Linked DNA regions of Homo sapiens. The protein of the gene in region 4 purifies or fractionates together with the protein of the main gene of each other region. This does not show direct contact. Each region holds a gene or a part of one and is shown on either strand. Other genes may lie near its edges. The genes, in order: GARS1, PLGRKT, DCAF4, SEC23A, PRMT3, PRRC1 and SNX3.

What was found.
Region 1: the proteins of SEC23A (region 4) and GARS1 fractionate together in Homo sapiens (co-fractionation; one large-scale study listed by BioGRID). This does not show direct contact.
Region 2: the proteins of SEC23A (region 4) and PLGRKT purify together in Homo sapiens (affinity purification with mass spectrometry; one large-scale study listed by BioGRID and IntAct). This does not show direct contact.
Region 3: the proteins of SEC23A (region 4) and DCAF4 purify together in Homo sapiens (affinity purification with mass spectrometry; one large-scale study listed by BioGRID and IntAct). This does not show direct contact.
Region 5: the proteins of SEC23A (region 4) and PRMT3 fractionate together in Homo sapiens (co-fractionation; one large-scale study listed by BioGRID). This does not show direct contact.
Region 6: the proteins of SEC23A (region 4) and PRRC1 purify together in Homo sapiens (affinity purification with mass spectrometry; 2 studies listed by BioGRID and IntAct, with this or other methods). This does not show direct contact.
Region 7: the proteins of SEC23A (region 4) and SNX3 fractionate together in Homo sapiens (co-fractionation; one large-scale study listed by BioGRID). This does not show direct contact.

Annotation. Positions count from the first base shown.
Region 1 is NC_000007.14:30,597,184-30,601,682, reverse strand, and holds part of GARS1 (glycine--tRNA ligase isoform 1 precursor), read right to left. Parts: intron 2,888-4,499; coding exon 2,786-2,887; intron 1,737-2,785; coding exon 1,634-1,736; intron 625-1,633; coding exon 483-624; intron 1-482. UniProt on the Homo sapiens protein: Catalyzes the ATP-dependent ligation of glycine to the 3'-end of its cognate tRNA, via the formation of an aminoacyl-adenylate intermediate (Gly-AMP).
Region 2 is NC_000009.12:5,360,685-5,365,183, forward strand, and holds part of PLGRKT (plasminogen receptor (KT)), read right to left. Parts: intron 1,205-4,499; coding exon 1,074-1,204; intron 504-1,073; coding exon 394-503; intron 1-393. UniProt on the Homo sapiens protein: Receptor for plasminogen. Regulates urokinase plasminogen activator-dependent and stimulates tissue-type plasminogen activator-dependent cell surface plasminogen activation.
Region 3 is NC_000014.9:72,928,857-72,933,355, forward strand, and holds part of DCAF4 (DDB1- and CUL4-associated factor 4), read left to right. Parts: intron 1-708; exon of another isoform or gene 709-900; coding exon of another isoform or gene 901-964; exon of another isoform or gene 965-1,108; intron 1,109-4,499. UniProt on the Homo sapiens protein: May function as a substrate receptor for CUL4-DDB1 E3 ubiquitin-protein ligase complex.
Region 4 is NC_000014.9:39,085,733-39,090,231, forward strand, and holds part of SEC23A (protein transport protein Sec23A), read right to left. Parts: intron 1,277-4,499; coding exon 1,197-1,276; intron 175-1,196; coding exon 30-174; intron 1-29.
Region 5 is NC_000011.10:20,502,156-20,506,654, forward strand, and holds part of PRMT3 (protein arginine N-methyltransferase 3), read left to right. Parts: intron 1-4,499. UniProt on the Homo sapiens protein: Protein-arginine N-methyltransferase that catalyzes both the monomethylation and asymmetric dimethylation of the guanidino nitrogens of arginine residues in target proteins, and therefore falls into the group of type I methyltransferases.
Region 6 is NC_000005.10:127,537,522-127,542,020, reverse strand, and holds part of PRRC1 (protein PRRC1), read right to left. Parts: intron 2,982-4,499; coding exon 2,878-2,981; intron 1-2,877. UniProt on the Homo sapiens protein: May act as a regulator of the protein kinase A (PKA) activity during embryonic development.
Region 7 is NC_000006.12:108,250,503-108,255,001, forward strand, and holds part of SNX3 (sorting nexin-3), read right to left. Parts: intron 1-4,499. UniProt on the Homo sapiens protein: Phosphoinositide-binding protein required for multivesicular body formation. Specifically binds phosphatidylinositol 3-phosphate (PtdIns(P3)).

The DNA.
Region 1 (4,499 bases), on a different chromosome or scaffold from region 4:
TATACCTTTGCTCAGAACTTGTATTAAGGAAATAATCAAGGATATACCCAAAAATCCATCTATCAAGATATTCGGTGCAGTCAAAAATGAGAAACACTTTAATGCTTTCAATATGGCACAAACTAACATATTATGGCACTTCCATAAAACAGAATACTATGCTATCATTAAAAATGCTTTAGATGAATAGTTAATGATATGAGTATATGTTCATCAATATTACATGAAAATAAGCAGTGTACTGCTAACACTGAAATACATAGGGACGTACAGAAAAAACAGGAAGGACAAACACAATCATCTTAACATAGCTATCTGTGAGCAGAAGGTATACATTTCTTTGCTTTTCCATATTTTTCAGATTTTCTACATGAAATGAGTAGTTCTTTATAATCAGGAAGTTATTTAGATAAGTATATTAAATAATTTAATAAGTTATTTTATTTAAAGTAGGATACCCCCACTCCAAAGTAAGATCTCACTTTAAAACTGGCTCAGGGGTGAGCATGGTGCAATCGATCTCCAGGATCTGTTCCTCTTGGATAAAGTGCTGCCTCCAGGTCTGAATAATATTGTTCTTCAAAGCACAGCCAACTGGCCCAAAGTCATACAGACCACTAACACCTATAGAATATGAGAGGAAAACACATACTTTACCTTGTTACTCTGAACAAATGAAGGCAAGGAGACATGAGAAACTGATACCTATACTCCCTAAAAGTGTATTCAAGTCAACAATGCAAATCCCTCAATACTGAAGAACCTTACTTTCAGCTAGCTGATGGAAGTAAAATAAAAAAGCTCTTACGCCATTTACTAATTCTATATTTGTAATTTCAAGTAGGACTAGCCCAAAATCTACAACAAAAGTTCCCCCTTAGAGAACAGAATGAAAAAGCAGATTACAGTTTTCTGCCGTAAAAATTACAAAATAATTTCTCACCACATCTGATAACAATGATCTATAATTTTAGCATCCAATTCTCTAATTTTTTCCTGGGTATTTGAGGCACTATTTAACCTCAAAAGGGTAAACATTTACAGATCCACTTAGCCAAACTCAAGTCAACTTTCAGTGGCAAAGTACTATATGTCTAATGTTGTTGTAATAATCCGTTGACTATGAAAAATATAGTTTTACATTTCATCAGTGAATTGTATTTGCCTATATACCTTCATATGGCATTCACAGTGATTTATCTACATCCCTGGGAAGAATGTTTTCTCCTGGCAGATGACCATAAAGAATAATCTAAGGACTGTTTTATCACTGCCCCTGTGTGAAGGGGCATAGTATAGTTAGCCAGTACTACAATGGCCCTCTGTTACTCTTCAGTCTCCATTGCATTTTAAAAAGAGTACATGAGTACACAGACACATCAAATACATACATGGGCCTCCAACAATTCCCTACATCCTAATCAAAAAAAGTGCTGTCCAGGAATAAATGCAGTGGAGAAAAATAACAGGTATCACACCAAATGGTGACTCCAAGCAAACAAAAGCAAAACATCCATCCTCTGCTTTGTGGCCTGATACAAGTGGATACCAACAGGCAAGCCATGTTCTTGATTTAAGTATAATATTAGAGCCACTAACAACACAATAGTTCTTTTTGTCATTAATCCCTTACCTCCATAAATAGCAAAAGCTTGATCATAGAAAAACCTCCTCTTCAGGGTATCTTCCATTTTTGCTCGGTCTACAATATCATCTTTGGGCTGTAACGCCAGCTCCTGTTAGAGATTAAATAAAAAGTGAGTGAGTGGAGGGGTGGGTGGGAATCTGAACTTATATATCTGAATTTAGTTTATTCCTCACCAGAATTAAATATAAAATTTATCAAACAGACAAGATTTTGATAGGTTAAAAACAATAGAAGCCATAGGTCTTTTTTTCCCTTTGAGTAATATAAAAGATATCTTTACTTAATCATTTAGGAAAATATATGATCATTTCCAAGATTACAAGACTAAGCTTGACCAGGTGCGGTGGCTCACACCTGTAATCCCAGTACTTTGGGAGGCCGAAGTGGGTGGATCACCTGAGGTCAGGAGTTCAAGCCCAGCCTGGCCAACATGGCAAAACACTGTCTCTACTAAAAATACAAAAATTAGCTGGGCTTGGTGGTGGGCACCTGTAATCCCAGCTACTTGGGAGGCTGAGGCAGGAGAATCACTTGAACCCGGGAGGCAGAGGTTGCAGTGAGCTGAGATCGCACCATTGCACTCCAGCCTGGGCAACAGGGCGAGACTCCATCTCAAAAAAAAAACAAGACTAAGTTTACTTTGATGTAGATACTGATAAGCAATATAAAGCAATATTTGAATTGTCAGTGGATTGCTATAGCAAAATGGTTACTTTAAAACCCCAAAACAACTTAAGTTTGGTGATGGGAGATCTATTGTTTGAAAGGTCTGGGAGCAGGTATCAAATAAACAGACCTTTTCCTTAAAACAAACAAACAAACAAAAATCATTATTTTCAGGCATAAGAGAAGTCGTAAAGAAGAGCACAATCCTTTCCATGGAAATTCATATAGCGTATTGAGTCCAGCATTTGCAGGGTCAGGAAGGCTTTATTAAAAAGTTGACATTTTGAGTTGCATTTTGAAAGGATGAGGAGTCTACCAGGTAGAGGGAAAGGAGAAGGCGGCATTATGGATAAACAGATAAACCAAATGATACTTGTTCAGAAACTTTTCTAGGTCTCTCCCATCCAAAGAAATTAAAGATGAACAATCCTATACCTACTTATGTTCCTATTTTAGCATCCCAGGACTCACCTTTGCTTCCAGAACCCTCTTGCGGGCTTTGAGCTCAGCCACTGCTTTGTCTACGTCTACTTGGGGTGCTTTATCTTCTTTGAGTTTTCGCACAAGATCTCCCTAGCCAAGAAAGAGAATTTATATTCAGGATTGGTTTCAGAAGTTAAGAAATGTTAGGAATGTGTTTTTAAGCGTGCCTTTTAAAAAGTCTATGTAAGAATGATGCAATTCAGGCCAAGCGTGGTGGCTCACGCCTGTAATACCAGCACTTTGAAAGGCCCTCCTCACCATCTGAGATCAGGAGTTTCAGACCATCCTGGCCAACATGGTGATACACCATCGCTACTGAAAATACAAAAATTAGCCGGCCGTGGTGGTGGGCACCTGTAATCCCAGCCACTTGGGAGGCTGAGGCAGGAGAATCACTTGAACCCGGAAGGCGGAGGTTGCACTGAGCTAAGATCATGCTACTACACTCCAGCCTGGGTGACAAAGTGAGACTCCGTCTCAAAATGAAAAAAAAAAAAAAAAAAAAAAAGAATGATGCAATTCAAATGTTTATTATGTGAGTGATCATTATGAATCAAGGTCTCTGCCCTCTTCATTTAATAATCTAGAAGAACACACGGGCAAGTTAACAAATAACTGCTCACATGGTGAATTTTTTCCTTTGGGTATAGAGGGGTGAAAAAGGAGGAGACAAAAGCATTGATTAAAAAGTAGGAAAGAGCAAGATTTGTACTGAGAACACAGAAGAACCAATAAATTGACCACCTTCTTAAATCTCTCTCCTCTCGCTTACAAAAAAAAATAAAAACATTATTCAGTTTTCCTCCCACTTCTCTGACCATTCTTCTCAGTCACTGCTGGCTCATCTTCCTTTGCCTTTCTCTTTACAGTTGGAATTTTTTCCTTGCTAATATTTCTGAATTATTTTATTAACTTCCAACAACTTATACTAATTCCATATTTATAGTAATATGGTGGAATAGGTCATCTGAGTAAACAAACAAAATATTACCTATATAGGATGAAAAACTTTCAGCTGAGTAATTAAAGTTGTTAAATTGATATAGCCCTTGGGCACCCAACAGAGTTTCTAATTTCAGTGATCCATTTCCATACAATATGTGCTTCATTTTCACACTGTGTGATTGTTTTTGGTAGTCTCTTGTTCTTTGCTCATGTTTTTGAGTACTTCTTTTATTTTAAAAATTATCTTAAGCATTTTAAAAATATGTGATTATTCTAATACTTTTGGAGGATCTAATTCTATTATCATTTCCCCTAAGTCTCACTCAAGGTGGCTTGTTTCCTCATGGGTTTTTAAATTTTGAGTTTGGCACTTACTATTTTGGTAACCTTAATCTGTGAAAAATCCTAAAAGACCAATGTGGAAAGTCTGCTTCTTTTGTAATATGACGTTCTGGGTAAAGTATATGAAGAAAGACATATGTAGGTGGAAAAGGAAAAATAATTTTAAAAGCCGTTTCGGATAATTGTGGATATTCTTTGATACTACCTCAAAACTCTGACAAGTGGTAGCTTCTTCAAGGTTATTTCTAACTCAGAAACTATAGCAATGAATTTTTTGTACTGTCAGAATAAATCTATTAATGTATCTTAAGCTTTGAATGGCTCTTTCACCAATACCTGATTTCATAACATCATGCATTGGTCACCTGGAAAACACTGGTTCACTGAGTTACGCAGATTATCCAAATACTATCAA
Region 2 (4,499 bases), on a different chromosome or scaffold from region 4:
TAGATACAATAGCTATAAATAACCAGAGTATGGATAATAGTAAATATTTAGAAACAGATGAGTTCTGTTTATTACCTTTGTTTTAAACACAATTTAATATTATTTATTTGCTGTAATTTATTTATTGCAAGTTTATAAAAGTTTTAATACATTAAGTGACTATGTTTAACAACCAGCTTACACAATCCCTGAAAATGTAGCGATTGGTTCTTGTGAGCTGGTATGAGCTGGCTCTAGGACACCACTGTGTGAAAGGGAGCAGAAATGTTGCTCATTGGAGGTTCAAAGAGAGAGTCTTGTCAGAATCTTTATAAGTCAAAGGTTCCTAAGGCAGGGATCCTTGAAATGGAAAATAAATCAGCAAATAGAAACTCTAGTTTACCAAAGACTTACCTTTCATTCTTTCTAAAAGGGTTCCATAGCCCAAGTCATACTGGTAGGTGAGGATAAAGCTTAATGGAACAATCGGGACCAGGAAGGCTGGCTTCTTTTTTTTAATCGCTCTGTTTCAAGAATTAAAAGAAGAACCAATATCAAAAAATAACCTGTAAATACATATCTGTATACTTAAAGAAAAAAAAATACCTGCTTTTTGGAAGAATGCCTTTTCCTTCAGAAGTTACTTAACACATTTGATAATTCTATGGAAATAGGATTTCCTTACCCAATACCCCTAACCAGATTCTGCAGTTCTCAAGGGCAAGGTCTGTGACTTGCTCATCTTTATTTGACTCTGAAGCTCAGGTTCCTTGTTTTTAAAATGAGTAAGGATTGGTATCTACCACTAAGGGATTGTGGAGATAAACACATAGAGCCCTTCTTGGTGTCAAGTTGGTGCTCTCTCTCTCTAACTAATAAAGTAGAGAAAAAGACAGAAGCAACCTAGGAAACTAAATTAACTGTTACTGCCTTGCTTTCACAGAGTTACCCCCAAGGACTAAGGTTAATAGGTTACTTTGGTTACATACACTATTTGGACCAAAGTCTTATTCTGGCCAACTTCATAATAAAATGGTAATGGAAAACACAAAAAGAAGTAAATGACTGAAGAAAATGTTAAATAGCAAACATACCCAGCTGTTAAAGAGATGGCTGCAAGGCCAAAAAAAGTTCCAAAATATTTGAGGAATTCCCGAGACCACGCAATCTGCATGGCCATTTGTCTTTCCCTCATTTCACTCTGCATGATGAGCTGCCTTTCCAGCTAAGGACAAAACAAAAGACAAAGTAAAGTTACTCATCTTTGGAATCTGAACAAATAGTTAATAATCTGTTTTTCCAGCGGATTCATTCTTCAATTGCTTTAATTCATGTTTTTTCAAAAAAATCTCAACAGACTTTGACTAAAGTTCCTTTGGACAGCTCTCACCAACTGTCACCTTGGCAGTGAAATCTTCCTGGAATAAATACAGAATAAATATCAATATTCCATTTTTACACCCTGAGGTCTTGACTGCCTGTGGTCTGGAGCTTTAGCCAAGTCTCAAATAAATGTCCAGCTTTTCCTATTGGATGTGTGGAAAGATCTATGGGTCTTTAAATGTAGATACATCTTATTGGCCTTTATTTCTACTTGCATGGAAATCTGCCTTCCAAATCCATTCCAAATTGAAATTTATTTGGAGTATTTATTTGCTCCATATCATACCACAATATCATAGTAGATGGGTGTTGTTTTGAGACATCTATAGAGATTTTTCTTTGCCACATTTTTCTCGCCTCAAGTTCTTCACCACTTTGTTCAGTGCCTTTCACTGCTTTGAACAGAAGGCAGATGGCTCAGAACAGAGAAGGAAACTGAATTTCTAAATTGATTTTTAGAAAATACTCAGGAGAAGCAACTGTCTGTAAACCCAAGCCCATTATTTGAAGAGAGTTATATTCTTGACAGAGAAAAGTGTTGTTGGCATTGTTGTTGATGTTTTAATTCTAAAATCTTGGCACTACATGTCATTAGCCAAGCTAGAGGGCAATACACAGGGAGTTCATGATGCAAGGAAGAGGAGAGGAAGGACTAATAATGTGATTTAGTTTTCCCTCCATGCCCTCTTTCTACTGAGGGGAGTAGCTGGGAGGGGCGAATGATAGTTTAGATGTAAAGATGGGGCTTGGCTCCTTGGCCTATTTGGGAGGTTAAATCACCAGAAGATATGACGGAAGCCTCAGATGGGTTTGGGAATCCCTAAACAGAGAAGACTTGTGGCCTTGCTTCCTGCGGAGAATTCTGGGAGGGAGCAGCTACAGCACAGCAGAAATGGTTTCAGGGCAGACCTTGCAGAGAGCACACCTAAGAGAGGCCGCTTCCATCTCCCTCAACAGCCAAGGGGTGTGGAGGAAGTCTGCAAGGTTCTCACATCAGCTGGAGAGGGGCACAGAAGGTAACTGCGGATTGAGAGCAGGGGGACTACCAATGAGTCCAAAACCTAGAGCCAGCGGACCCCATAACAGACACTTGGGGAGTGAACATAAGCCAGTGGCTGGGTGGGGAAGGCCACTCACTGGATCCCAGAGGATCAGCAGCACCCGAGAGTGCTTTTCTGCTTTGTTTTCTGTTCAATCAACCTGGACAGCGCCACATGATGTTCCCTAAGGGCATGTGGCCATGTTCCAGGCTGGCGTAACCATCATCGCCATACTCTCAGGTGCTACTGATCCTCTGGGATCCAGTGGCCTTCCCCACTCAGCCACTGGCTTATATTCACTCCCAAGTGTGTGTTATGGGGTCCCCTGGCCCAAGGTTTTGGACTCTGGTAGGCCACCTGCTCTCAATCTTCAGCTACCTTCTCTGGCCCTCTCCAGCTGATGTGAGAACCTTGCAGACTTTCTTCACACCCCTTGGCCGCTGAGGGAGACGGAAGTGGCCTCTCTTAGGCATGCTCTCTGTGAGGTCTGCTCTGAAACCATTTATGCTCTGCAGTACCTGCTCCCTCCCAACATTCTCCACAGGAAGCAGGGCCATAATTCTCTGTCTGGGGATCCCCAGATGCATCTGGCTAGATGTGCCTTCCCTGATGCTGGTGCCACCTGAGATCACCTGGACCCAAGCCTAGGTCATACCAGGGAAAAGATGAACGGAGAAGGGGAGGAGGAAAGCTGAATTCAACTATTTTCTCCCAAAGAACCGAGTTTTAAACTAGAAGTAATTGAGTAACTTTGACTTGTCAAAATTAAATTTGCTGTCACCAAGAGAAACTGAGGTTCATTTTGAGTTCAATTAGAGTTTAAAAATAGATGTGTTTTTGCACAAGATTAGTGTGTGAAATTCATCCTTGCCACATTACTTATTTACAAAACTTACATACTGATTCATCATATCCCCCAAAGTGATGTAAATACAGCAATTAATTATTTGTGTTTTTATCAAAAGGCAGCAAACAAGAAATAGAGGAGTCCAGACTGGTTCTAAACCTTTGCTGCACATCATGAGCATCTGGGGAGATTTTCAAAGGTCTAGTAACCAGATATACCTCCCAGACCAACTAAACCAAGTGGGATCAATTAAGTCAGGATCTGGAGGTAAAATCAGGCATCCATAATTTCTAAAGGCTTCCAGATAGTTCCCGTGTGCAGCCGGGACTGAGAACCGTCACCTGAAATGAAAGACTCATAGCTCATATTTTTTTTCCCACAAAAGATCAACCTGAGATATCAACCTGAAAGAGATTACCTGGGAACTCTCAAAAGATTGTGAGCAGAGGGGCTTTCAGGGTGATGGAGTTAATCTGTATGGTACTATCGTGGTGGATACATGACATTCTGCATTTGTCAAAACTCATAAAACTTTACAGCACAGAGTGAACCTTAGTGCATACAAATTTTACAAATCAGCCAAAAGGGCAAGGGATGCACAAGATGGAATGGGGACTGTGACAAAATAATCTGACTGTGCTACAAATGTGTGGCACAACCTCAATGAAGGGTTGGGGGAAAAGAACTGATCTATCTTTGGAAAATGGTATTTTGACTAAAAACTGTAAAACTAAAGACAAAGGACTATACATAAACACTGTACTCTAGTGAGTAAAACTGTCTCTCACGAGTTACAGATTAACAATTCTGAAACTGCTTTACATGTCTACTGGAGATGAGCAACAAGTAAATTGACAGAAGATGGTGGAAGCCAGGTTTCTTATTATTAAACAGGGAGATTACAAACAAGCAAGAGGAAAAGACTAGAATGAACCATGTGGTACTGGATTAGAGCCAATGACATCCGTATGAACTCATGCTTAGTGCTTGATACAGACATAGACAAGGATGAAATTATAGATATGCATATCTATATGCATGCATAGATTAGGCATTCATGGCTTAGTGTAAGTACATACATTTTCTCAGCTCTGTCCACTGACAGGGCATAGAGGCAATAACAACCCCTTGCAAACAAGCATACCTAACACCCAGAAACACCCAGACATGATTTCTACTCTCCAAAAAAAAATAAATAAATAAACCAGGGCTCCTTAGAGAAATAGCTGGCCTAGGACTGGGGCAAGAAA
Region 3 (4,499 bases), about 34 Mb from region 4:
AACAGCCCCGAGGCCCCCAAACTGGAGAGCCCCAAGGGGAGATGGAGCCCCTCCCCCATTCTGAGTTTTGGCCCCGTGCTAAGGCTGGACCGACCCCCTGTGCTGTCAAGCCTACCTCCCAGGGGAGGCGAGGCCAGCCCCGATGTGTGCGGGCTGCCATCCCCCACACTTGGCTCCGGGGCTGGTCGGTGTTGGGCGTCCCAGCACTGCGGGCGGCACGGACGCCCGGGGCTGCTCCCTACTGGGTGTAGCGCACCCCGCCCCCCACCCCGCCCGGCCTCCTCTGGGCCTGCGCCTTGGGCCTATTGAGGCCAGGCCTGGAATGGTGCCCTGGAAGCAGGAAAGAGCCTGTAATTCCGGAAGCTGCGGGCTCCCAAACCAGACACCATTTTGGAGACCGGTGCAAAAATGTGTGCCGCTTTTGTGTGGAAAACTGCTAGACTGTGAGAGAGAGCCGACCTCCTCATGCATGAACCTTTATAGAGGGTGGTCCACATATTCTGTGCACTACATACACATACGCTGGGCACATACTGGCTCTCTGTGTTAAATCTCAGATTTGCTGCCGCGCGTGGTGGCTCACGCCTGTCATCCCAACGCTGCGCCAAGGCAGGAGGATCGCTGGAGGCCAGAAATTCGAGACCAGCCTGGGCGGCAACAAAGCGAGACCCCGTCTCTACAAAAATATTTTTTATTTTTATTTTATTTTTCCGTCAAGCTGTTCTTTATTTCAGGAAGAGGGCAGGGGAGGGGGCTCAGTCTTTCTTGGCAGCGGCTTTCCTCATGGCAGCCAGTACCTTGCTCAGCTCCTCCCGCTTCCTCTTGGCACGGATGTGCGTCCCCACCCTTTTCTTGATGAACTTGAGGGCCCATTTCTCCTTGAAGACCTTCAGTGACTCCATGGCGCGCAGCTCGTACGAAGCGAAGCCACACACCTCCCGGATCATGTCCCGCTACAAACTTGGTGCGTTTGCTCAGACGCCCGCGGCGGCGGCTGTGCCTGGGCTTGCTCACGTTCTTGGTCACCTTGTGGCCCTTGTTGAGGCCCACGGCCATAAGGTAGCGCAGAGCCATGGCTGCTGCTCTCCATGGCGGCCGTGGCGGAAGGCCAAAAATATTTTTTAAATTAGCCTGGTGTTGTGGCTCGTGCCTGTAATTCCGGCTACTCCGAGGTTGAGGCAGGAGGACGGCTTGAGCCGGGGAGATGGAGGTTGCCGGGAGCGGAGATCGCGCCACTGCACTTCAGCCAAAAGGGGGGTAGGAGGGAATAAGTAAATAAAATTAAATAAATAAAGTGGTATCTCACTGTGGTTTTGATTTGCATCTACCTAAGGACTAATGATGTTGGGTATCTTTTCATGTGCCAGTTGGCTATTTGTGTAGCTTTTTCTTTTTTTTTTTTGAGACGGAGTTTTTTTTGTTTGTTTTTGAGACGGAGTTTCGCTCTTGTCGCCCAGGCTGCAATGCAGTGGCACCATCTCGGCTCACTGCAGCCTCCACCTCCCGGGTTCAAGCGATTGTTCTGGCTCAGCCTCCCAAATAGCTGGGACCACAGGCGCCCGCCACCACACCGAGCTGATTTTTGTATTTTTAGTAGAGACGGGGCTTCGCCATGTTTATCAGGCTGGGCTTGAACTGCTGTCCTCAAGTGATCCGCCAGTCCCAGCCTCCCAAAGTGCTGGGATTACAGGCGTGAGCCACTGTGTCCGGCCCTAAATAATGTCTTTCGATGCACGGAAGTTTTCAATTTTGATGAAGCCCAATTTATGTGTGTATGTGTGTGTGTATATATATATATGTAGTGTGTGTGAGTTTTGGGTGTCATATTTGAGAAATCATTGCCTAATCAAGATCATGATGATTTATACCTTTGTTTCCTTCAAAGAGTTTTATAGTTTTAGATCGAGATCCATTTTGGTTCATTTTTGTCCCATATGGTATGAAGTAAGGATCCAAATTCATTCTTTTGCAGTTTGATATTCAAATGTCCCAGCAGTTGAAAAGACACTTCTTTCTTTCATTGAATGGTCTTGGCACCTAGATGAAAACCAGTTGACCATAGATAGGCATATGGGTTTATTTCTGGTCTCAATGCTACTCCATTGATCTATATTTCTATCCATATGCCAGTAACACAGTGTCTTGATTACTGTAGCTGTGTAATGAATTTTGAAATTGCGAGGTGCGAGTCATCCCAACTTTGTTCTTTTTCAAGATGATTTTGGGTATTCTGGGTCCCTTGCATAATATGAATTTAGGATCTGCTTTTCCATTGCTAAAAAAATGGCATTTGGAATTTTGATAGGGATTGCATTCAATCTGTAATTTCTTTCAACAGTGTTTTATAGTTTTCTGTGTACACGCCATATATTAATTTTGTTAAATATATTCCTAAGTACTTTTTCTCTTTTTTTTTTTTTTTTTTGTAACTGAGCCTGAGCAGGACCAGAGGAGTGCTTTATTCTTTTTGATGCCATTGTAAATGTAACTTTTCTTTCATATTCAGGCTGTTCATTGCCTGAACCAGTGTATAGAAATACAACTGGTTTTTCTATATTGATCTTGTATCCTGCAACCTTGCTGAATTCATTTGTGAGGTCCAGTAGATTTTTGGTGGATTCTTTAGGATTTTCTGTATATAAGATCATGTTTGGTTGCCTTTTCTTTGTCTTGCCTAATTGCCTGTCTAAAACTTCCACTACAATGTTGAACAGATGTATTGAGAACCAACATCTTTGTCTTATTCCTGACCATAGAGGGAAAACTTTGTCTTTGGCCACTAAGTATGATGTTAGGTGTGGGTATTTTGTAGATGCTCCTTATCAGGTTGAGGAAACTACCTTCTGTTTCTAGTATGTTGAATGTTTTTTTAATCATGAGAGGATGTTGCATTTTGTCCAGTGCTTTTTCTGTGTATCAATTGAGAAAATCATGTGAGGTTTTCCCCATCTATTAGTATGGTATATTGATTGATTTTCATATGTTGAACCAACCTTATATTTCTGAGATAAATCGCGCTTGGTCTTGGTATATAATTCTTTTTATATGCTCCTGGATTTTGCTTGCTAGCATTTTGTTAAGGATTTTTGTGTCTCTGTATTCATAACCCATACTGACCTATATTTTTCCTTCTTTTTTTTTTTTTTTTGAGAGATGGAGTCTTGCTCTGTTGCCCAGGCGGGAGTGCAGTGGCATGATCTCGGCTCACTGCAACCTCTGCCTCCCAGGTTCAAGCGATTCTCCTGCCTCAGCTTCCCAAGTAGCTGAGACTACAGGTGTGCACCACCACGCCTAACTAATTTTTTGTATTTTGGTAGAGATGAGGTTTCACTCTATGTTGGCCAGGCTGGTCTTGAACTCCTGACCTCAGGCGATCTGCCTGCCTTGGCCTCCCAAAGTGCTGGGCTTACAGGCGTGAGCCACTGCACCCGGCCTTGACCTATATTTTTCTTCCTATATCTTTGTCTGATTTTGGTAACAAGGTAATACTGGCCTTATAAAATGATTCGGAAAAATGTAGTAAATATCTTGGAATCATTTTTGTAGGAGCAGTTCCCAGAAGGAAGGCATGTACATTTGTAAGTTACTTGATAAATATTTTCCAGTCATTTTCCAAAAAACCAAATTGTGTTTATTTGTGATTAACATTGCCTTTGCAGAATAGTAGTCTCTTAGAAATTATAATTCTTAATGCCTTGAGGTACTTAAAAGTTTCTCTGAAAGACAAAGGCAAGCCCAACCTTCTGCAACACACCTGATTTTAACATCTAGAGCAGCTCCAAAGGTGCTAGATGCAGCATGTTACCAGCAAATTGTTTTCGAGTGCTTCCTACATAGAACAGGTTTTCTCAGCTTTAGCACTGTTTTGGGCCAGGTAACTCTTTTGTTGTTGTTTTTGAGATGGAGTCTTGCTATGTTGCCCACACTGGTCTCAAACTCTGGACTCAAGCCATCCTCCCACCTCAGCCTCCCAAGCAGTTGGAACTGCAAGTGTGAGCCATCACACCCAGCTGAATAATTTTTTTTTCTTTCTTTCTTTCTTTCTTTTTTTTAATGTTGTTTGTTTGAGACGGGATCTTGCTATGTTGCGCAGGCTGGTCTTGAACTCCTAGGCTCAAGCAATCCTCCTGCCTCGGCTTCCCGAGCAGCTGGGATTATAGGCATCAGCCACTGCACCCAGCCCTGGATAATTCTTGCTGAAGAATGTGTGGAAGCTGCCCTGCGCATTGTAGGGTGGTTAGCAGCATCCCTGGCTTTTACCCACTAGGCGCTAGTAGCAGCCTACCCCTCCTTCTCCCGAGCTGTGACAAACAAAAATGTCTCCAGACATTGCCAGATGTCCCCTGGTGGGCAAAATAATCCTTAAGAAGCACTGATCTACAAACTGTGATGCATACTGGGTTTTATATTATTACTAGATAAAATTGTCTCTAATGGCCAGGTGCGGTAATCCCAGCACTTTGGGAGGCCGAGATGGGCAGATCACAAGGTCAGGAGTT
Region 4 (4,499 bases):
ACATTCCAAAACAAAACCATCTTCCCTACCTCCAGCAGTCCTACAGCTATGGAAAGTGCCACCCCAGAGGAACGCAAAGGTCTCTTTCCCTGTGGTACAGGCCAAGGGTCTCGCTGGAGTTCTCCCAGAAGATCTGTGAGATTCATGTCTATTTTCTGTACTGGTTGTAAGAATCTAAGAAACAGAATTAAATAAAAAGCCATTTGTAAATGTTTATGGGTGAGAGTTCGATAAACAAATTTCACTTTCCTAAAAATAGAAAACAACACTCTGAACACACAGCAGACCAATGGTTCTCAAACTTTCGTGTATATGAGAACCAGCTGGAGGGCTTGTTTTAACACATATTGCTAGGTCCCAGTTCTAGAGTTTGTTTCGGTAGGTCTGGAGTGGAGCCGAAGAATTTGCATTTCAAACGCATTCCTAGGTGACACGTGATGATAACAGCCCCAGAAACCACATTTTGAATACAACCACAATAAACGAAACACTCAAACCAAGTACTTCAGGATTTCATCTCTCACTAGTCTAGTAAGTTTTAGGTTACTGAAATAATTATGAGAAAATACATCAACTAAATTTTAGTAATACTACCTCTGATTAGAAAGCTTAGGGGAAAAAGCTAGCAGGGCGCGGTGGCTCACACCTGTAATCCCAGCACTTTGGGAGGCCGAGGAGGGAGGATCATAAAGTCAGGAGATTGGGATGGTGAAACCCCGTCTCTACAAAAAATACAAAAATTAGCCAGGCATGGTGGTGCATGCCTGTAATCCCAGCTACTTGGGAGGCTGAGGCAGGAGAATTGTTTGAACCTGGGAGGCGGAAGTTGTAGTGAGCCAAGATCATGCCACTGCACTCCAGAAACCTTAGCGGGAAAAGCTACCTCTAAAGCTAAGAAGAAAAAATAAAAACCTTGGCTGCCCTAAAACCACACAAAAACAAGTTTTTTCCAAAGTTCAAAATAAAAAATAAGGAAAATAACAAAACTAAAGTAACTCCTTACATTGTTAAGACAAAAAACAAACCATTTTAATGACATGATTTTGACTCAATTCTTTAAAAAGTATGTTAATACAATTTACTTATATTCCTAAAAATATTTAACAATATAGTATCACTGAATGCCTATGTTCAAGGGTATGGAATGTTTAAAATAGCTACAGAAACGGTCAAATTCTCTTCATCATATTTATTACCTGTTGGAAGGAGGTGGCTGCTGTACCTGAGGACCACGTGTTGCTTGAGTAAGTGGTACTTTAGAGAGCCCCAGCATTTCCTGTAAAGAGATTACTTGTGCAATATTCATTTAATTACTTTTACAAAGATTTATCAACTATTTATCATGTATAAAATGCTGTGCTAGACATTAGAAACACAAAAATAAAAAATACAAGGTCTCCTTCCTCAGAAAACAAAGAATCCAGTGGGAGAGATTATCAAGAAAACAATAACACAAAATAATCATCATGAGAGAGAAAAGCACAAGGTGTTATATAACCAAAGAGGAGGCATATTAGCTCAAAAACACTTTATTTCTAATTAACAGTCAAAATAAATTGTTGTGTAACTTAAATGTCCATACTTCTTAATTTATATTCATTCATCCGTTTCAGCAAACTATATCATAAGCACCTGCTATGTGGCAGGAATACAATGGTAAAAACTAACTAGTCCCTTCCCTCATGGAAATTAAAATCCAGAAACATAAATTAATCAAATCAACAGATAAATAAATGTAAAATTGCAACAGTAGTAAATGTTAGGACTTGGGGAGTTATAAGGCTCACGTACTTTGTACCTATATACATCTTGATTTTCTAATGTAATTCATAACCAAACTACGAACTGCCACCTTTGTTTTGAATTTCAGATATGTGCACAATTTCTCTCTAGACAAATGAAAATAATGTTATACTAAATTTTTCTTGAATCTAGAAATGCTTAGTCATGAAGTACTGGAGTTATAAAACTGTGTAACAGAAAACTGAAGTCTAAAGATGTACAAAGATAAAATTAGTGAACTAATCCTGCAATATTTCCTATACTGTTAGCAGAAACAGCAACTCTTTACTAAGAACTTAATATGTTCCATATTCTATGCTAAAACCTTTATATATACTATTTCCTCACAAAACAATAATGAAATAGATTTCTTCTTAAATTCTACTTTATAAATGAAAATTGACAATCAGAAAGACTAAGTAATTTGTCTGAGGTTACACAATCAGTAAGTAACAAAGCAAGATTTTAAATCCAGGTTTTTCTATAAAGCTCTATAAGGGTTTACACCATATTGAGAATTTCATATTTAGTACTAATAACCTGGCAAAATAGGTAGTTTATTCCTTTCTATGAAGGATGACACAATCAGCAAAGACAAAAACCCAGGATCATACAACCAGAAGAGTTTAAGATTTGAATCCAGGACTATCTGGGGAGCAAAGGCCAGGCTCTTTTCAACTAATAATAGGGAAAGAATAGGGAAATTTAATCTAAATAGGGAAAGAAAATAAACATGTTTCAATGGAGAAAAAAAATTCAGTCTGCAGGCATTCACTTGCCTATTGAAAAAAGGAAGATGTGGCCAGGCGCAGTGAATCACAGCTGTAATCCCAGTATTTTGGGAGGCCGAGGCGGGTGGATCACCTGAGGTCAGGAGTTCAAGACCAGCCTGGCCAACATGGTGAAACCCCATGTCTACTAAAAATACAAAAATTAGGGCCAGGTGCGGTGGATCATGCCTGTAATCCCAGCACTTTGGGAGGTCAAGGTGGGCAAATCACAAGGTCAGAAGTTCAAGACCAACCTTGGCTAACATGGTGAAGCACCAACTCTACTAAAAATACAAAAATTAGTAAGGCATGGTGGTATGCTCCTGTAATCCCAGCTACTTGGGAGGCTGAGGCAAGAGAAGCGCTTGAACCCAAGAGGCAGAGGTTGCAGTGAGCTGAGATCGTGCCACCGCACTCCAGCCCGGGTGACAGAGCGAGACTCTGTCTCAGACAAACAAAAAAAAACTAGGCCGGCCTCAGTGGCTCACACCTGTAATCCCAGCACTTTGGGAGGCTGAGGCAGGGGGATCACCTGAGCTCAGGAATTCAAGCAGCCTGGCTAACATGGTGAAACCTTGTCTCTACTAAAAAATACAAAAATTGGCCAGGCGCGGTGGCTCACGCCTGTAATCCCAGCACTTTGGGAGGCCAAAGCAGGCAGATCACGAGGTCAGGAGATCAAGACCATCCTGGCCAACATGGTGAAACCCGGTCTCTACTAAAAATACAGAAAAAAAAAATTAGCCGGGTGTGGTGGCATGCGCCTGTAGTCCCAGCTACTCGGGAGGCTGAGGCAGGAGAATCGCTCGAACTAAGGAGGCGGAGATTGCAAGATCATGCCACTGCACTCCAGCCTGGGTGACAGAGCAAGACTCCGTGTCAAAAAAAAAAAAAAAAAGAAAAAAAAAGGAAGATGTTTTATGTGCTTCATATGCATTATATAAGTAAAAGGTACTCTACAATCAGAACAGTAAACTATTCTAAATAAATTCATAATTTAATAATAACATTAATAGTAGCAAATGCTTAAATGTACAATTCATTTAATTCTCATGACTACACTATAAGGTATATACTATTACTATCTCTATTTTACAATTGAAAAAAACTAAAGCACAGAGATTTCAACTGGTTCACTTTCTCTCCTGTCTCATGGAAACATGATTCTCCTCTCTAAGGTACTCCGCTTCCTGTGCTCCTGAAGGAATCCCTACTATGTCTTCCTAAACCTGACTTTCCTCATCTCACTCTTGCTTTAACTCACCCTCTTTAGTCTCTTTCCTTTCTCCTTCCTCCTAAAGTACATCTCTTTAACTCAGTTCTCTCTCAAATTCCCATGCTATCTCCTCCTTCATTACCTTCAACAAACCTCTTAAAAGAACAAACTTCAGGCCGAGCACGGTGGCTCACTCCTGTAGTCCCAGCACTCTGGGAGGCCGAGGAAGGTGGATATCCTGAGGTCAGGAGTTCAAGACCAGCCTGGCCAACATAGTGAAACCACGTCTCTACAAAAATACCAAAATTAGCTGGGCATGATGGCGGGTGCCAGTAGTCCCAGCTACTCGAGAGGCTGAGGCAGGAGAATAGCTTGAACCCGGGAGGCGGAGGTTGCAGTGAGCCAAGATTGTGCCAATGCAGTCCAGCCTGGGTGACAGAGCGAGACTCTTGTCTCAGAAGAAAAAGAACAAATTTCAACTTTCTCTACCTTCTCAAATCTTATTCACTATTCATTGACTAACGCATTCATTACTCATTATCCTCCCCATTTAAACCTGCAAATTCCCCTAGTATGTTCTCTTAGTTAACTGCAGCACCACTACCTCAGTCTGCCAAGTTTCAAATTAGACTCACCCTCAAAAATCTCTTCCTTTCTTCTTCATTTTGGTCTACCTGGAAGCCTCTAAAGTCTGATTTTACATCTGTCAACTTTATGCCAGGCTTATCTAT
Region 5 (4,499 bases), on a different chromosome or scaffold from region 4:
GCTCAGCTCCAGAGTGTTCCTTCCAGCTCTCACCACAGTGCACACACTTAACAACATCAGTCATTTTATATCTATTTGACACTGATTAATTACTCTGATTCATTCTGGTATTATAGCCACTGCCTTGGCACTTTAGTTAGGTCTGAACAATTGAAGGGAGATCAGCAGTGTGAATTATGTATTTATTACTGTGACCCTTCATGCTACTTAATTAACTTAAATGATTGTGTGTGCACCCTCATCTTTGAAATATGATTATGGAAAAGATTTACCTGTATTTCATTTTAAGAAATGAAAATCATGGTTATCAGCATCAGCTTATATATATGACATTATGTTAATTTTTCAGCTGCTATATTGATGCTTAGCATTTTTTCTTTTGTGAAAAATTAACAAATATCCATTACTAATTCATTTTGACTGGGGTTTTTTATTTCTAAACTGAGGAATGCATAGAACTCTTATAGGTACATCCTTTGATCCTGAAATGAAGATGATAACCAGATTTATAAGCACTATGGAACATTTCTATTTTGACTTGCACTAAGGATTGAATAGGACTTCTATAAACAAGACAGCTTACATATTTTTAACACTCAAAAGGCAATGTAAATGAAAGAGCAGCAACCATCAGAACAAATGTACAAAAATGAAATATTTACTAGCAATACCTCATATGCTTCAATGAGAAAAGAAGTAAGGTAAATGCACCAGATTTTTTAGATGGTAGTTAAATAAATAGTACTTATCTCCTCTGATTTGAAATACAAATCAGAGCAATCACGTTTTGGTTGTTGTTTTTCATTTACTCTTTTGTTGATGAAGATGGCAGGAATGTAACACTGGAATATATTTCATACCTTTTATGAAGGAATTATACTTCTGATAATCCATCCTAAAGAATCAATTCAAAATTCAGACTTAAAAAATACTTGTTACACAAAGACACTGCTTTAATTTGCTTTTCTTTCTTTAAACTATCTTGCTTTATAGAATTTTTTTTCATTTTTTATAGTCACATCTGTCAACCTTTTGCTTTTGGTGTCTGGCTTTGGTTTCATCCTTTAAAAGATTATATTACTACTTTTGTACAATGTATTGAATCCTTTCCTCAGTGACTTAAAATGCTCCACTTACTATGTACTGAGTCTTCATAATTGATCTTATTTCTCTCATTTGTCTGTGTTTATTCCTAGGCACCACATTTTTAAACAAATAATTTACATATAATCAAAATTCACACATTTTGATTGTACAGCTCATTGAGTTTTGAAAATTACATATACCACTGTGGAAATATAGATTATTTCCATCACTCCAAAAAGTTTCTTCTGCAATTCCCTGTATGGTCAGTCCCCAACCGTGATTCCCAGACCAAGACAGTCACTGATATGCTTTGTCATTATATGTTAGTATTACCTTTTTAGAATTTTTATCAATGGAATTATACAGCATGTACTCTAGCTTTCTTGGCATTTTTTTTTTTTGAGATTCTTCTATCATTAGGTTGTTCCTTTTTATTGCCAAGTAATATTCCTTTGGCTATGCCACAGTTTACTTAGGTATTCACCTGCTGCTAGACTTTTGTATTGCTTTCAGTTAGGGGCCATTAAGAATAAAGTTGCTATGAATATTCATGTAAAAGTCTTGGTGCAGACAGATGTTTTCATTTCTCTTGGGTAAGTACCTAGAAGTGGAATTACTGGGTCTTATGGTAAGTGTATATTTAACTTTATAAGAAACTGGCAAATTTTTTAAAAATGACTATGCTATCTAACATCCCTAGGGCTAACACCATTGTGAATTCAGTTGTTCCACATCATTTTTAACACTTATAAAAAAGATGCAGTATTTTAAGCCGTTTTGAGTATGTAGTTATAGCTGTGCTTGTAGTTTTCATTTGCCTGATGTGATGTTGGGCATTGTTTCATATGTGTATTGGCCATTTTTATATCTTCTTGTGAGATTTCTGCTCAGATATTTTGCTTGATTTCAAATTGGGTGGTCATCTAATTGAGTTAAATTTAAAAGTTAATAATAGTTCATCTTTTCCCAAATGTATATTCACTTGCTCCATCATCATTTCTTAAAAAGACTATCCTTTTCCGATTTAATCGCCTTGGCTCCCTTGTCAAAAATTAATTGACCATATGCATATAGATCTACTTCTGAGCTCTCATTTTCCCCCAGGGATCTGTATGTCTGTCCTTGTGCCTTTAAGACAGTCTTTATAAGATTGAAAAAGAACAAAATGGCAAGATTTACACAAACAGTTGTTTTGGCTATTCTAGGTCCTTTATATTGCCATATAAATTTTAAAATCAGCTCATTAATTTCTGGCCTAAGAAAGCCTGTTAGGATTTTGACTGGGATTTTGTTAAATCAATAGATTAGGGAAAATTGACATCTTAACAACATTGAGTCTTTCACTCACGAGAGAGTGGGTCTCTCCATTTATGTGGACCATCTTTAAAGTTGTTTTGTAGTTTATGTAAGTCAGACATATATTGTTACATTTATCTCAAGTATTGTATGTGTGTGTGTGTGTGTGTGAGAGAGAGAGAGAGAGAGAGAGAGAGAGAGAGAGAGAGCGAGAGCGACTGAGACTCGGTCTGTCGCCCAGGCTGGAGTGCAGTGGCATGATCTCTGCTTACTGCAACTGCCACCTCCTGGGTTCAGGCCATCCTTGTGCCTCAGCCTCCCAAGTAACTGAGACTACAGGTGTGCACCACATGCCTGGCTAATTTTTGTGTTTTTAGTAGAGACAGAGTTTTGCCAGGTTGGCCAGGCTGGTCTCGAATTCCTTGTCTCAAGTGATCCGCCCACCTTGGCCTCCCAAGGTGCTGGTATTACAGGCATGAGCCACCACACCCAGCCTTTATGCTTTTTTGAAGCTGTTGTTTGTAGTATTATATAAATTCTTCATTGCTAGTACGTAGAAATAGAATTTTTATACCTTGATCCTAAATCATAAGACCTTGCTTAAACTTCAATAAATAGTTCTAGTAGCCTTCTTTGCATATAGCTTCAGGATTTTCTATGTATAAAACCAGGTAGTATGCAAATGAAAACTTTAATTCCCCCTCCCCCAGTCTGTATCCTTTTTCCCTCCACACTTTAATGTCCTGACTAGGACATCTAATAGAATACTTACTTTATGTTGGGTCTCTGGAGGTCATTTTGTTATTTTTGAATCTCAAGTGTCCATTATCTGTCTTTTCATATGTGAACTACTTTATACCAGCAACTAAATTAAGTAATTTGTATAAGACATACTGCTTGTAAGTAAAAAGGAACTAACAAGCCACTGTGTTGTAAAAATCAAGTTTGTTGATTCAGTGTTGGCAATTCAATAACAGTAAGTTAAACCCAATAACCAAGTTGGCAATTACTATTCTCTGTCATGTATTTACAAAAACATTGTCAGTTTATCATAATGTGGCTGTTCGTTCCCAGTTTTGGTGTCAATAAATAACTTAAATAGAAGTTTTTAAATGTTGATTTAAAAAGAAGCAAATAAAATAGCCAAAATAGAAAAGTCAAAATAGGAAAATCTTAAATGTGTTCAATATACTAATGATCTTTTATTTCTTCCTTAGGTTAATGCCTTAGATAAGAAAACGTGTATCATTGTTCATTAGTTATTATAGAATAATAGTTACATCAACTTACATATCAATTGTGTTTATAAACAAGTAAATATTTTTACCAAAAAAAAAAAACAAAACCCACGGGGCGGTAAAATTTAGGTCTATTTCTTATTCATTATAGTATATTTAAAGCTATAATCATCATTTTTTTAGATAGAGATAGGGAAGCACCAGAGTATAGTTGAGGAACTTGGGTTCTGGAATCAAACTGCCTTGCTGAAAATCCTAGTTCTTTCACTAGCTGGCAGATGACCTTGGGCAAATTACTTACCTTTTCTGAACTTCATCTGTGAGTAAGGAAAATGCGCTTACCTCATAGCAATATTTTGTGACCATTAAGTGAGATAAATCATGTAAAGACCTTAGAGTAGAGCCTAGCACAAAGTAAGTGTTGAATAAATATAAGCATAAATTATCTAATGATTAACCTGAACTCCATAAAGTTTGTAGAACTATCTGACTGGTAATCTTTATTATGTCCACTATTGGTGAACATGTCATATGAGATAGTTTTATATCATTTTCTTAATATAGAGGAATAGGTCAGATATAAAAGCTAAAGCCAAATATACACATTAACATATATACGTACACAAAAATTGTTATATTTTGTTGAATGGATTGCACCTTGGGCCACATTATTTCTTCTATTATTTAACTCCTTAATTATGTGTTAAACTGTGAGTCTCACCTTTTTTGCAAAGATGTAGAGAAGGTATCAGTAATGGAATCTTTATATTCTGAAAATAAATATAACAGGTGGTTATGTTTTACTTGTGTTATTTCACTACCATCTTGAAAAGCATTCAGATAATTTTCCTTGAATATGGGGAATTTGTATTTTTTTAA
Region 6 (4,499 bases), on a different chromosome or scaffold from region 4:
ATAGCACTAAATGCCCACAAGAGAAAGTAGGAAAGATCCAAAATTGACACCCTAACATCACAATTAAAAGAACTAGAAAAGCAAGAGCAAACACATTCAAAAGCTAGCAGAAGGCAAGAAATAACTAAAATCAGAGCAGAACTGAAGGAAATAGAGACACAAAAAACCCTTCAAAAAATTAATGAATCCAGGAGCTGGTTTTTTTGAAAGGATCAACAAAATTGATAGACCGCTAGCAAGACTAATAAAGAAAAAAAGAGAGAAGAATCAAATAGACGCAATAAAAAATGATAAAGGGGATATCACCACCGATCCCACAGAAATACAAACTACCATCAGAGAATACTACAAACAACTCTACGCAAATAAACTAGAAAATCTAGAAGAAATGGATAAATTCCTCGATACATACACTCTCCCAAGACTAAACCAGGAAGAAGTTGAATCTCTGAATAGACCAATAACAGGATCTCAAATTGTGGCAATAATCAATAGCTTACCAACCAAAAAGAGTACAGGACCAGATGGATTCACAGCCGAATTCTACCAGAGGTACAAGGAGGAACTGGTACCATTCCTTCTGAAACTATTCCAATCAATAGAAAAAGAGGGAATCCTCCCTAACTCATTTTATGAGGCCAGCATCATCCTGATACCAAAGCCAGGCAGAGACACAACAAAAAAAGAGAATTTTAGACCAATATCCTTGATGAACATGGATGCAAGAATCCTCAATAAAATACTGGCAAACTGAATCCAGCAGCACATCAAAGAGCTTATCCACCATGATCAAGTGGGCTTCATCCCTGGGAAGAAAGGCTGGTTCAATATACACAAAATCAATAAATGTAATCCAGCATATAAACAGAACCAAAGACAAAAACTACATGATTATCTCAATAGATGCAGAAAAGGCCTTTGACAAAATTCAACAACTCTTCATGCTAAAAACTTTCAATAAATTAGGTACTGATGGGACGTATCTCAAAATAATAAGAGCTATCTATGACAAACCCACAGCCAATATCATACTGAATGGGCAAAAACTGGAAGCATTCCCTTTGAAAACTGGCACAGGACAGGGATGCCCTCTCTCACCACTCCTATTACCATCAGAGTGAACAGGCAACCTACAAAATGGGAGAAAATTTTCGCAACATATTCATCTAACAAAGGGCTAATATCCAGAATCACAATGAACTCAAACAAATTTACAAGAAAAAAACAAACAACCCCATCAAAAAGTGGGCGAAGGACATGAACAGACACTTCTCAAAAGAAAACATTTATGGAGAGATGACTTTTTAACAGAAATGACGGAAGCCAGAAAACAGTACCATGACATTTTTAAAGTGCTGAAAGAAAAGAAACTGCCAACCTAGACTTCTACATCCAGCAAAAATAAAGGTGAATTAAAGCACTTTCAGATAAACAAAAGCTGAGAGAATTGGTAGTGAGCAGCTCTGAACTATAATGTATTATCAAAGGAAGTACTTTAGGCTTCCTTTCGAAGAAAAATGACCCCAGACAGAAAAACAGAAATGCAAGAAAGAATTCAGAGAATAAACAAATACTGACTGCAAAGAACATTACCAGTTATGTCTTAAGAGCTTAAAATATATGCAGAATTAAAATACTTAACAATGATACCGCAAAAGGTGAAAAGGGAGTGAATAGTATTAAAAGTAGTACTAGTATTATCACAAGTTATAATTTTTGTTATATCAAAAAGGCATATTGTAATTTCTAATGTTAATTATTAAATGAACAGTAACAGGTTAATAAAAAAAAATGACACAACAATCACTGGACGGTTTCTCAGTGCTTACATAGAAAGTTGAAACTTATCAACCTAGAATTCAGAGCTCTTCACAATTTGTCCCGTCACCTCTTGATTTCCCATCCAACAAACCTTCAGCCAAGTTGATATAATCACTGACCCAAGAATACATTTCAATTACCTTCAAACTTTTTCTCCACCCAGAACATCCTACTTCCTTTGTTCCATTTGGCCAAGTTTCACCTCTTCTTCAAAATCCAGTTCAAGCCCTAATTATTCATGAATTTCACCTGACACTATCTCCACAGAGTTACCTCCACTGAAATTTTATATATTTCCTGTCAGCAAAAAATTATGTTTCCTTTTTACAATTACTTAAAACTGCTCATCTGTGTACTACATATATCTTCTTTCCCACTGGCCTATAATATGCCTCAAAGTTGGAGGATATATTTTGCATATTACAAGCCACAAAATGCTATGCCCATTGTTATTCAACACTGAACAAACAAATAAAAAATAAAAACAACAAAACCATAATGCAAATACAAAAGAAGGTAGATTTCAACAAAGGGAAGTTATTCTAATATAAATCAATTAAGCAAATTAAAAATTTTTCCCATAAAAAGCCACCTGAAAAACAATGATAAATTATGCTGTCTGGAGGTTTTTCTAAACTATTATGAGTACAGGAGAGATACTGCTCACTAGAAACTCAAACCTAGAGAATGCCATCAGGCCTTCTTGCCCATATATTCCACGACTTTGAATAACTATGAGAATAATTGTGTTTGCTACTCATGGTCAATTATATCCACACCAAATCTATCATCTTATACTTAGTGCCATTTTATTAATTATTAGCATGATCTCAGAAAGCAGGCATGACCATCTCCATTTTATAATTAAAAAAGAGACACAAGGATAGAAATGCCAGCTAAGCCATGCAGGACACACAGCTAGTTAAGTGATATAGCCAGCATCAAAATATACTTTTCTCTCTGGTTATAAAACAGGAGACACTTTTTGCTAAGTATTCAGTGTCAACTCCCAGACCCAATTATATTTTGCTTCCAAGAGAAACATAATACACTTACTTGTCAGGCAGCAATTCTGCAATGAAGTTTTCTACTGACACAGCTGTCTGTTTTTCATGGATCACCCCAGTTCGACGCAAGCTATCTATCCGTTCCTGAGCACCCTAAACAACAATGGCAGAGGTTAGAGACCATTTCAAATTATTACATATTAAATATACTAATTTATGATTACACAATACATGCATACATTTATATGCAAACACATATATATACTCACTGTAAACGTTCAAACAATACAAAAATGTAGAGTAAAAAATGACAAAATACAATTACATTTCCGTAGTATCAACAGTTTGGGGTACACCTTCCAAATTATTCCATATGCATTATGATGTTGGTTGCTATTGTGGATTATTTTTATATTACATTTTCTCATTGATTGTTACTGTTAAATAATTTAAGAAAACTGTATTTTTTAATGTTGATCTGGCAAGAGACCATCTTACTACATACAAAGTTTTTATCAGTTCTGGCAGTTTTGCAGTTAATTCTCTCTTGAATTTTTCAGGTAGGCAATCATATCAATAATAAATATGTTTTTCTCTTTCTTCTGATTCCTTTTAAATATACATGCACCAAAATGACCAGTTACTTAAAATAAAAAGCTGCAAATGTATACATTACACCACAGCTTATTCAACAAAATAATTACCATTGAAGACATGAACTGATTATATGTAATAGAAAACTAAAAGCTGGATGACTGAGGGAAAAGGTTTCTGTTTATTGCTTTTATCTGAATCCTTTCATAAAAGGTGACCATGAACAATGTGATGAATATGTGTTCAAAACGCAAGATAAGAAGTCTGAACAGAAGTAGCCATGGATAATTTTTATAAGGACAGCAGAGGTAAACAGACAATATCAGATTAAATGGTAAATTCTTATCCAAATGAAAATTAAGAAGGCTAGGACACATCTCGAGAAAACTCAATTTATTTCAGAGACAACTGAAGTGAAAAAGAGAAAGTGACAACTGTGCGAGAACGTGTAAGACAATTTAAGATACTAGCTTGTAAAGATGAAGATGATAGGATTTAAAGTACAATAAAACCAAGATTGTATATTTTTGCTCACTCTTCTATCTCTAGTTTCCAGCACAGTGCCTAACTTAATAGGTGTTCAATAAGAACTTACCACATAAAAAACTGAACAAAGAAAAAAATAAATGCTTCTGAAGGCCTATGTGGTCAATGTTAAGAATACAAATAGTGTAAATATGGCATCACCAAATCTAATAACACTTAAAGAGGCACCTGTTGATTTTGAAAGCAGTATTAACAGATAAGATGAACTTAGTTATTTATACCAGATGTTACAAATTTGCCTAATTCACTCCTCCCAGGAAGCAGTTATGGCTAAAGTTTGATTTTTAAAAAGCTTAAGTAAACATTCATTCCGTAAAAACTATTAAGGGATTAGTAAGATGTACAGAGATTCATCCCCTAACTCTTTGCAGGTGATATCTCAGCTATGCACTACAACAAAATATTCCTAGATTTTATGCTTCCAGGGAACAGAGACTAAGTTTGTTCATTTTTCACTATCCTACAGCACAGAGCTTTATATTTCACAGGATTCACAAAACATTTAATTAAAATTAATTAGTTCCTGCAAGA
Region 7 (4,499 bases), on a different chromosome or scaffold from region 4:
TATATACCATGGGGGAATCTTTGGGTGTAAATTTAAGACAAGACCTGGTGATATACACATACATGCCTAGCTGACAAGATTTTTCTCTACTTGTTTCCACTTGAAGATAACCAGTAAAGTCAAGACAAGAGAGGGGTGAGATACCAAGACCAGACACAAGGAGGGGCTTTGAGACTCCTCTGTTTCTCAATATGGACGAGACTTATACAACAGAGAACTTCATCCCACAAGGGCAGGACTAGAAAAAACGGAAAGCAAACAAGCTATAGGTGGCAGGTGCTAAAATAACTTTAGGAAAGCCAAAAGAAATGCTCCATCAGTGATAAAATCAAAGTTTACAGAACAAATAATTATCAAATGACCATTCCAATACTGCTGGACACAAAGTAACTTTACAAAATTATTTTAAGTAATTCTCTACTTCTCTGCTAAGAGATTAAGTGATTCTCTGCCAAGAGACACTGGCTTCATTTATTTTGGTGGCTCAAATTATATACTCCATCATTCAATGTCAGCAACTACAATGGTGGTCCTAAGTAAAACCAAAATAGTTTTAAGCAGCCTTGGAAGGAAAAAAAAAAAGGTTAATCAACTACCTTTAGAATCTCTAGCCCAATCTCAAGGTATACCCCTATCAGATATGCCATGTCTTCATGCTTGCCTTTTTTCTCAACTTAACAAAATTAATTATCATGAAAGAATCAAAACTTACTCACTTAAGACTTCCAAACTAATGAAAGTACAATTTTATTTCTTGCAAATCAAATGAACTTACTCTAAACTGAAATTCCAGGCATTAGCAAAAAAAGGAAATAACAGATGATCACAGTGTAGCTTAAAGCCATATCCTAGAAGGGCCAACCACAACCATTTGTTAATGTGGCAAAGCAAAGAACAGTGTCTACTCTTCCCTTCTTCACATGGCCACCTGGTTAAATTTCCCAGCTTCTTTTGTAGCTAAGTACAGCAATGCGCAGAAACAGAAATAATACGACTTCCTGGTTGTGTCCTTCAAGGGCAGAAATAAACATTCCCCTTGGCTAGAATGTGAATATGATGTTAGAAGCTGATAGTCAAGCCACAATACTAACCCTGGACTGTACCTGAAACCTCTCCATGTGGAGAAAAAAACCAAAAAAACAAAAAATTATCCTCTTTATCTGAGAACAGCCCAAACTCTATACTACCTGATACAACCTTTCTGGCAAGCTATAGCAAACGTCACATTTTACTAACACATTCCAAATTCCTAGGTTGTCAGTTAAATATTTCTTTAAAGAAGTAGTGGCCAGGCGCGGTGGCTCATGCCTGTATTTTGGGAGGCTGAAGTGGGCATATCACTTGAGGCCAGGAGTTCGAGACCAGCCTGGGCAACACGATGAAACCCCATCTTTACTAAAAATACAAAAATTAGCCAGGCATGGTGGTGCACGACCTATATATTCCCAGCTACTTGGGAGGCTGAAGCATGAGAATTGCTTGAACCAGGGAGGCAGAGGCTGCAGTAAGCTGAGACTGCACTATTGCACTCCAGCCTGGGCAACAGGGTGAGAGACTGTCTCAAAAATAAATAAATAAATAAAACAAACAAACAAACAAAAAAATGAAGTAGAACTTTGGTTGAAAGCTTTGTCTTTTAACTAAGGAATCAAAACAGTAAACTGCAGTTCCAGTTTCCTGTGCTGGGTCTAAGGAAGGGATGGCAGGCACCACGTCCAGCTTCCTGACAGGCACCTACGGCAAGAAGCCCCTGACGAGAAACAGGCCAAGGAGATGTATGAGGAAGACAAGGATTTCAAGCAGAAACAAGAAGAGGAGCAGAAAAAACTTGAGGAGCTAAAAGCAAAGGCCACAGGGAAGGGTTCCCTGGATAGGTGGAATTAAGAAATCCGGCAAAAGTCTATGGCCATTCTATCCTGAATGCAATTGCTCGTCTGATCTCAGAAGCTAAGCGGGGTTGGGCCTGGTTAGTACTTAGAAGGGAGAAATCTGGAAAACAAGAACAAAAACCAAAAAACAAACCACTGTGTCCGAGGCAATGATGACCCTTGATCCCATTCCTATTTAAATATCTGCATTTCCTACTATAAAATCTTCTGCTTCCACTCTAGGAAGCAAAGGATGAAATGTCTTGGAGCCTGTTGCACATTTAAGAATAAACTTTTTTTCTCTTTTTCTCTTTTTTTTTGGCACAGAGTCGCGCTGCCACCCACCGCAACCTCTGCCTCCAAGGTTCACGCAATCTTTGTGCCTCAGCCCCCTGAGTAGCTGGGATTATAGGCATGCACCACCACACTGGCTAATTTTTGTATTTTAGTAGATATGGGGTTTTGCCATGTTGGTCAGGCTGGTCTCGAACTCCTGATCTCGAGGGATCCACCCGCCTCAGCCTCCCAAAGCGCTGGGATTACAGGCATGAGCCACCACACCCGGCCCTAAGAATAAACTTCTGGAAAAAAGAAAATAGCAGTTCCAAGATTTTTTTGGACACCATCTTTCTTATCTGATGTTCAAGAAATTGCTGGCTCTATTTACATGAAAGCAGCATAACATGGTACAAACATCAAAGTATCTAATAATAACAGTCTACTACTTTCTGGAAGGGGTGAGATAAGCATGATGATAAAGGTGAGCAGGAGAGGAAAATGTCTATTGCATGTGATCACCAGGATAGCTCAAAGCACTTTTTTAGATTTTCCCCTTTACAGGTATAAAGTGACAATATTTATAAAGATTCCTTTTTTGAGGCATGCTTGATGGCATGCAACAGTAATCCCAACTACTTGGCTGAGGTAGGAGGCTCACTTGAGCCCAGGAGTTCAAGACCAGCCTGGACAACACAGCGAGAACCTGTCTCCAAAAAATTCCTTTCTTAAATGAATACATATGTCTTTTTTTTTTTTTTTTTTTTACTTCTGGCTTACTTTCATGATTATTATACAGGGATATAGACATGGATGATGCAAGACAAGGGCAAAAAGATCTGGCTTGATTGAATGTAGTCTGTGTCTCCCCTTCCTCCCAAAAACTTAAGCTGTAGAGATTGGTATGCTTTCAGTTAATATTTAAATGCCTCCCCTCCAAAAAGTTTTCTATCTTTGACAAATGTCACTGGTTTTCCTCTCTGTTGCCAAGATCTGCTATTCATTTTATGTTTTACTATTTTAGAATCTATTTTTTTAATCCCATCAAAGCTACCAACCATTGTGGTTCTATGTATATTTCTCTTCCTTCTCTACTGTCTATCTATCTCAGTGAGACAGATAGCATGATAAGCAGCAGGAGAAATCCTTGCTGCATATAAGTGCCCTTACTGGGATGCTTTTTAAACCACCACTGCCGGCCGGGCTTGGTGGCTCACGCCTGTAATTCCAGCACTTTGGGAGGCCGAGGTGGGTGGATCACGAGGTCAGGAGATGGAGACCATCCTGGCTAACAAGGTGAAACACCATCTCTACTGAAAACACAAAAAAAATTAGCCAGGCGTGGTGGCAGGCACCTGTAGTCCCAGCTACTCGGGAGGCTGAGGGAGGAGAATGGCATGAACCCAGGAGGTGGAACTTGCAGTGAGCTGAGATTGCACCACCTCACTCCAGCCTGGGTGACAGAGTGAGATTCCGTCTCAAAGAAAAAAAAAAAAACCGCCACTGCCCAAACCCCACCCCACCCCAGTAAAAGAGAACCTGAATGGTTTCAAAGGCTCCTCAGGTGATATGAATTTTCTGTGAGGGCTCTGGGCAACCATGGTAAAACCTTGTCTGAGACAAGCCTGGGCAACATGGAGAAACCCTGTCTCTACAAATACAAAAAAATTAGCCAGGCATAGTGGCGTGCTCCTGTAGCCCCAATTACTCAGGAGGCGAAGGTTGGGAGGGTTGCCTGAGCCCAGGAGGTCGAGGCTACAATGAGCCCAGATTGCACCACCGTGCACTCTAGCTTGGGCAACAGAGTGAGACCCTGTCTCAAACAAAAGTACGGGCTCTGAAGGTCCGAAAATCTAGGTTCAAATCCCAGTTTTACCATTTAATAGCTGTGACCCTGGGGAAGTTAACTTTCTTAAACTTCATTTATTTGTAAGTGTCCACTATGTGCCAAGCAGTGTTGGATATTGAGTAAGGGTGATTATGACAGTCCCTGTCCTCTAAGAGCTTATAATGGGTGACACAGGAACTTACAGGAAGCCAAAGACAAGCAAACAAATTTATTCCTAACAAAGCTACCAGGGCACACAGGAAGGAAATCTGGTCCAGAGTCAAGGGATCAGCAAAATCTTTAAAAAGGGGACATTAAGGCTGAGTCCTGCAGGATAAGTGATAGTAACCAGATGAGGCTCTTAAAGGAAGCCTGTTCTTAACAGAGGAGGAAGTGTGTGCAAAAGGCCTGGATACAAAAGAACTCAGCTTAATTGGGAGATACCAGTTCAGGACTGGAGTTAAAATGAGGAAAGGACAAGAGATGAGGATCAGTTGATCAGCTTCTACAGGAATATTATCTACTCT